2 linked regions of the Homo sapiens genome follow. The protein of the gene in region 2 purifies or fractionates together with the protein of the main gene of each other region. This does not show direct contact. Each region holds a gene or a part of one and is shown on either strand. Other genes may lie near its edges.

What was found.
Region 1: the proteins of LMAN1 (region 2) and PCDH1 fractionate together in Homo sapiens (co-fractionation; one large-scale study listed by BioGRID). This does not show direct contact.

What each region holds. Positions count from the first base shown.
Region 1 is NC_000005.10:141,871,820-141,875,471, reverse strand, and holds part of PCDH1 (protocadherin-1 isoform 2 precursor), read left to right. Parts: intron 1-3,652. UniProt on the Homo sapiens protein: May be involved in cell-cell interaction processes and in cell adhesion.
Region 2 is NC_000018.10:59,335,262-59,338,913, reverse strand, and holds part of LMAN1 (protein ERGIC-53 precursor), read left to right. Parts: coding exon 1-154; intron 155-286; coding exon 287-357; intron 358-3,652. UniProt on the Homo sapiens protein: Mannose-specific lectin. May recognize sugar residues of glycoproteins, glycolipids, or glycosylphosphatidyl inositol anchors and may be involved in the sorting or recycling of proteins, lipids, or both.

The DNA.
Region 1 (3,652 bases), on a different chromosome or scaffold from region 2:
AGGGAAAGAAGAAGGTGAGGGCTGCCCCTGCCGTGAGCAAGGATAGTTGGTGCAGAGATTCTGTTCAACAATGTATTGAGCACCTTTTATCTGCCAGGGTCCATGGTGGGTGGTGAGGATGCAGTAGTAAGAGACATACCATCATTGCCTTCATAGGACTTACCAACCAGCGAGGGGATTGGCTTGTTTATTCATCGAACCAAGGAGCACCCACTGTGTGCCCGATGCTGGAAATAAAATGGTCTATTCAGCAATTAGAAGACTTAGAAAAAAAAATGATTTGTCCTTTACATGTAATGTAAATAGACCTTAATGTAATAGACCTTATAGGCATGAGATCTCATTTAATTCTCCCAAATAATTTCAAGAGGCAGGTTTCATTATTTCCATTTCACAGTATGGAAACAGGTTCAGAAAAGTAAATTCACTTGGTTAATGTCACACAGCTAGGAAGTGGTGGAGCGAGGGTTCTAACCCCAACGATCTGACATGCAGGTGCCCAGAAGCCCTGCAGAGGCTAATAGAGGGTTGTGGGAGAGAGGGGAGAGGAGCTGAGGTCTGCACACTTGCTCTCTGTGGGAGGCTTCTGTTCAGCTCCACCCCACGCAACCCCATTTTCTTCCCCTCTCCCCGCGACAGTCCGTTTGTCCCTTGGTGTTTTGTGCCCGCGGCAGTGACCGTTGTGTAACAGTGCTGGGGTGAGGGTGGGGAGTCAGAGCTGACCTGGCTACTGGGACAGTGGTGGCTGCCTCTGTGTGTTTTTTCTCTGGCCACAGCACTCAGCAAAATGGACCTTGGTCCCCGGGGTGGGCTGGAAGTGAAGTTTCCGGGTGAACTCTCACCTCTGTTCTCATCCCTTCCCAGATGTTGACACAGACAGTATTTCCTTCAGCTTTTCTGGGACTCCGTCCCCTCCTTATCCCTTACTCCTACACCCCTGACGGCACTTCTGCTCCTCTATCTGAGGGACATGGGTCCCTGCGCCTGTTCCCCCTCAGGCTCTGGCTTCTCAGGGTCCTGGGTGCCCATGTCACTGGGGGGAGGTAGGGCACCGTTGCCCAGGAAGGCAGCCAGGGCCCGGGGAAGGGCAGATAAGGCGCTGCATGTATCAAAGGCTGCTGTGTGGGATTAATGACTCCCAGTGCCCAACTGCTGGGGACAAAGTTCAGAGATGGTGGGAACACGGGTGAGGGAAGGCCTCCTTATTGCTGCTCCTGCCCTTCCAGGCCACCCTGGCTCTCTTCCTGCATTTCTACGGGCCCCTGGGTGAACAGCAGCAGCCTAGGAAGCCTGGGCTGGTTCATTCCTTGACCCTTAGGCCCACTGTTTCTTATTCCCTCCTTACGGGGCAAGGTTGGCAGTCCAGGAATGGTGGGGAGGCGGGTGTGACATAACAGGAATCAGATTCTAGCCTCAGATATTTCTGTTTCTTTCCCCCAGACTCTGGGATGTGAAGAGGCATTCTTGTTTCTCAAGTCCTGGTTCTTCCACATACTACTTCTGTGACTTAAGACAGTTTATTCTTTCTCAGCCCCCATTTGATCATCTGTAGTATGGGAAGGAGTGTAATAATAAATACTACCCATTTGAGAGGGTTGGGAGGAAAGAGATCATGTGTGTAAAATGCTTAGTACTGATAAAATCTTAGTGTTTGCTGAGATGATGATGATGATGAGTGATTATGATGGCAAAGGTGATGATAAAAGTTTGCAGGGGCTGGGCGCAGTGGCTCACGCCTGTAATCCCAGCACTTTGGGAGGCTGACGCAGGAGGATCACGAGGTCAGGAGATCAAGACCATCCTGGCTAACACGGTGAAACCCCGTCTCTACTAAAAATACAAAAAAAAAAAAAAAAAATTAGCTGGGCATGGTGGCGGGCGCCTGTAGTCCCAGCTACTCGGGAGGCTGAGGCAGGAGAATGGCGTGAACCTGGCAGGCGGAGCTTGCAGTGAGCCGGGATCGCGCCCCTGCACTCCAGCCTGGGCAACAGAGCAAGACTCCGTCTCAAGAAAAAAAAAACGTTTGCAGGACCGGGCCAGGCGCGGTGGCTCACGCCTGTAATCCTAGCACTTTGGGAGGCCGAGGCGGGCAGATCATGAGGTCAGGAGATCGAGACCATTGTGGCCAACACGGTGAAACCCCGTCTCTACTAAAATACAAAAAAAAAAAAAAAAAAATTTAGCCGGGCGTGGTGGCACGTGCCTGTAGTCCCAGCTACTTGGGAGGCTGAGGCAGGGGAATTGCTTGAACCCGAAAGGTGGAGGTTGCAGTGAGGCCAGATCGCACCACTGCACTCCAGCCTGGCAACGGAGTGAGACTCTGTCTCAAAAAAAAAAAAGAGTTTGCAGGACCTCAGGCTCTTTCTTAACTCCCTGGAATTATCTCAAAGTTGTACCCAGATGGTCCGACCATTGCATCACAATTGCTTGGGGGTTTCTCTAGGTCCCACCTCCTGAATAAAGATTCCTAAGGGTGGGGCCAGATAATCCTCATTTTGAAGAAACTCTCCAGATGCTTGAAAGGCCTAAGCCCTCTTCAACTCCTTTCCCCACTGTGAGCAACTCTCCCCCAACCCTGTTTTCCCCACATTCCTCCTACTTTCTGGGACCTTTCCCCAGCCCCGCCATCCCATACCTTCCTTGAGCTGGATATTATCCTGTGGTTCTCCTTCTCTTTCCAATTCAGAGGTTAGATACCACAGTCCTTAATTGGTTCTTTTGCTGGTTGAAGGTAAGACAACTCCTCAGGGTGAGAAAGAGCGTGTGGGGAGCGGAGGTAGTCTCACAAGCATGTGTGCCTGTTCTGCCTAGGAGGTTTGAAAGGTTATAGGGCCTCAGGTTGTGACTGTGAGATGGAGGAAGCCTGAGGCAGGGGCTTAATTCGTAGCTCTTGGAGTGGCCACACATCATTCGCCCTGACTGCCAGATCATGGCCCCCTGAATTAGCGGCTAAAATTTGTGAACAGTCATTTTTCCTGGAAAAATCTGTACCATGGTTTTATAAAATTCTTGAAGGAGGATGTGACCACAGAAGATTAACTATCTTAAGTATCCTCGATCTGGAGAGAACAGAGGCAAACAGTGACTGCCTTATTTATTCTCTTGGTCAGGTTTAGGGTAATTCCCGTGGGCTTCCCACATAACGCCTCACCTGCCAAGACTTTTGTAGAGAATTAGGGTGCACAGTGATACCACATTGTATATGCAGAGGAGGGTGGCAGCAGGATACAGTCCCATAAGAAAATGAGGTTCTCTGGTGATGGTCCTTTGACGATGTGTTTGGGTTGGGGTTGAAGTAGTCAGATGAGCCTTGTGCCAGGTCCATGCAGGTGGAGGGGGGGGGTGGGGGGTGGATCCAAATGGAGTACAGATAAATTCCTGCTTCCTTTAAAGAGATTAACATTCACACCAATCTGATAACGCCGCACACACTTTAGGGAGGGGCCTGTGCTTGGGGAAGGCCATACAGAGGAGGGGATGTGTTTGATTTATCTAAAGACTCTGTGCATTCAGTGAACATTTGCTGAGAGTCTACTATGTGCCCTAAACAGAGAAGACTTACATTTTACCCCAGGAAGTTCTTAGTGGTGTAGGGGAATCGGGTAAGTGAGCAAGTAAAAGAGCAGTGGTCACACAGCAAGTACCAGGAAAG
Region 2 (3,652 bases):
ACAAGTCTTTGAAGGACAGAATCGTATTCATCTTGAAATCAAGCAGCTGAACCGGCAGTTAGATATGATTCTTGATGAACAGAGAAGATATGTCTCTTCCTTAACAGAGGAAATCTCTAAAAGAGGAGCAGGAATGCCTGGGCAGCATGGGCAGGTGGGCTTGCAGAATATGCAGATGTGCCCCATTTACCCTTTGCTGGAAGGGAAGTAAAGAAGAAGGGCAACTGTACTATGTGCTCATAGAATGTGGATTATTCAGCTTGCTCGTCATTGTTTCTTCCTCCAGATTACTCAACAAGAACTGGATACTGTTGTGAAAACTCAGCATGAGATTCTGAGACAAGTAAATGAAATGAAGTAAGTATGGAAAAGTAGCGTTTGTGTGTTATGTGATTTTTTTTATCCTAAATTTGTGACTTCAGGTGTGCAAGCACTGTATTGCAAGATTTCTGCATGAGGGTAAGAATCCCGTTCTAGATTCATTTTACAAATAGGGGACCATAAATACAGCAACTTTTAATATTCAAAAACTGCAAACATGTCTAAAGTTTTTAATTGTTTAGAGCTGGAAAAGAAAAAATGTTTTGGCATCTTTTAAAGAGATTTGTCAGTTACTTGACAGAGCCAGGTGTGTTCTTATATTTATAAAATATAAAAAGAATATGAAATAATATATAACACTTTTATGAAAAGTACTAGAGGAATAAATATGTGTAGCATTGTAAGACTATAATACAAGCAGACCTGATGCAGGAAATTCTTTTTGATGGAATGAAACCATTTTGAACGTAATATGTGTGACTACCTCTTTTTCATTCCCATCTTTTACTCTCAGAGAGACTGGACAGAGTTGGAGCAGAGAGGAGATAATTGTGTCCTTAGAATGTTGAACAATAAATTTCTAATGAGAATGATTGACTTATGCAGATAATTAATAGCTTTCAATGCCTGGAGCAGAGATAACAAACCATAGTGTCATGTTTCCATAACCTAACATTTCAGAGCACTGTCCCAACCGATAGAACCCTTGACAAACAAGAATGTCAAGGTGAGTTCTTTAGGACTGGAGAATTAAACAAGGTTAGATCAAACAGAAGGTGATTATACCTGATGTCTAGAGATTAAAGGCACTTAACTTATAACTGCAAATTTATATTTCTTCAATTTTTCTCTTTGCATTTTAAAAAATCTTCATAATCTGAACTCATGATTGAAATATTTATGATGCTAGATGAATAGTTTAGCTCTTCAAATAGTTTAGTTAAATGAATAGAATCCTTTTAGAAATAGACTGGATCATGTAACGCAACCTTTTTAAAAATCTTTTTATTTCGATCTAATTTTAGACCTCAGAAGCTACAGAAATAGTATGGGAAGTTTCTATACATTCTTCACCCATCTTTCTCTAATTTATATAACCATGGTTTAATTGTCAGAACCAGGAAATTAACATTGATACAATTCAATCAACTAAATTAATGACCTATTCAAAATTTATCAGTTTCTCCACCAAGGCCTATTCTATTCCAGGATCCCATCCACAATCGCACATTACATTTAGTTATTTTTTCTCTTTAGCCTTCTGCAGTCTGCAGTAGTTCATCTTCCCTTGTCTTTCATGACCTTGACATTTTCCAAGAGCATTAATCAGTTAATACCTTTTGATTTGGGTTTGGTTGGATGGAAGTTCCACATTTTGATAAGAAGATATTATATATTATAATATGTTATATAATATAATTATATATATTATTATATAAGATTGGTAAGATATTACTGATGATGTTGGCTGTGATCACTCGGTTATGGTGGTTTCCTATTGCTATCTCTACTTTAAAGTTACTGTATTTCCCTTTGTGGTTAGTATTTTGGAGAAGGTACTTTGAGACTATGTAAGTATCCATTTCAACCTTCTGCTCATTCATTTTAGCATCCATTGATGTTTCTTGCCTGTAACAAGAAAGTGGTTTTTGCCAAATGCTGATTTTTTTTTAATTTTTATTTTTATGTATTTATTTATTTATTTTTTTGAGACAGGGTCTAGCTCTGTTGCCCAGGCTGGAGTGCAGTAGTGCAATCACAGCTCTCTGCAGCCTCAACCTCCTGGGCTCAAATGATCCTCCCATCTCAGCCTCCTGAGTAGCTGGGACTACAGGTACATGCCACCACACCCAGCTAATTTTTCTATTTTTTTTGGAGTTGGGATTTTGCCATGTTGCCCAGGCTGATCTCAAACTCCTGGGCTCAAGCAGTCCTCCTGCCTCTGCCTCCCATAGTGTTGGGATTACAGGCGTGAGCCACCACGCCTGGCCCCGATGTTTATATTTCGAAATAATTCCCTCCATATTTGTTCATTGGAATTCTGCTGTCAGGACCAACTATCTTTTCTCTCCCATTTATTTATTTAGTTATTTATTTAGATCAGTTCAGACTCATGGATACTTATTCCATAGGTTACAGTCCAACACTCTCCTTATTTATTTTGCTGCTCAAATTGTTTCAGGTATGGTCATTCTGAGCTCCTTCATGTTGGCATCTTTGTTCTCTCAACAAGCCCTCATCTTTTTTTGAGCATTTTAAAAATTTATGGTACTGCTCTATCTTCTAGGGTCATCTTGTATTTTCTCTGCCCTCAGTGAGCCCTGGTTCCTTTTTCTTGAGAAAGGTATTTGAAAACCAACCTTTGGGCACTAGGTATGCTCATTACTACCGCGGTGCCGTTACCTCTAGGCCTCTTACTGGACAGAGCTAGGGAATATACATATGTATACCAACCCATGCATGTACATGAGTCTGTAGTTCCGTGTCTGTCAACCTACTCTTGTGTTAAACCATGAGATTATGCAGATATTTTGGATTCTGGCTGGACTGAACACTACAGAGTTAATTTTTAACTTTCCCCCTTGTCTTATTTGAAAATTCTTCCTCCAACAGGGAAAAACCTGGTTCTTATTATCTGTATCTATAACATATTTACTTATTGGTTTCACTTGAGTATGCATATAAGTACACACAAAGTGGTTTCAAATTGTTAGCTCGTATCCCTGTGAGAAAGACATTTACTGACAAGTTTATGTAAAGTTCCTTTTATCTCTAGCTTTACAGTATCCAGCCCAGATACTCTTTTCCAGATAGTTTCTTAGTGTAGTTCTCTTTTTCCCTACTCTTTTCATTATGGCTGATATTACTCATTTAGGATCCAGCTAGATTCTTTGTTAATGTTTATATTCCTCCTATATCCTGGTTGATTTAAATTGTTTGTATTTTGGGTATATGAATACTATGGTTCTAAGGGGCAGAGCATGTGTATATCGCTTCTTCATCCTTGCTACCACTTTCCCATCCTCCCCTTCTTTCCAGCTGTTTCCCACCCATTCCCTCTTGGTAACCAATTCTGTTAGCTTCCGGTTTGTTCTTCCTGTATTTCTTCTGCATATACGTATTTTCTTTTTCTTTTCTTTCTTTTTTTTTTTTTCTTTTGAGATGGAGTTTTGCTCTTGTTGCCTAGGCTGGAGTACACTGGTGCAATCTTGGCTCACCGCAACCTCTGCCTCCTGGGTTCATGCGATTCTTCTGCCTCAGCCTCCCGCCTAGCTGGGATTACAGGCACCTGACACCATGCCTGGCTACTTTTGTATTTTTAGTAGAGATG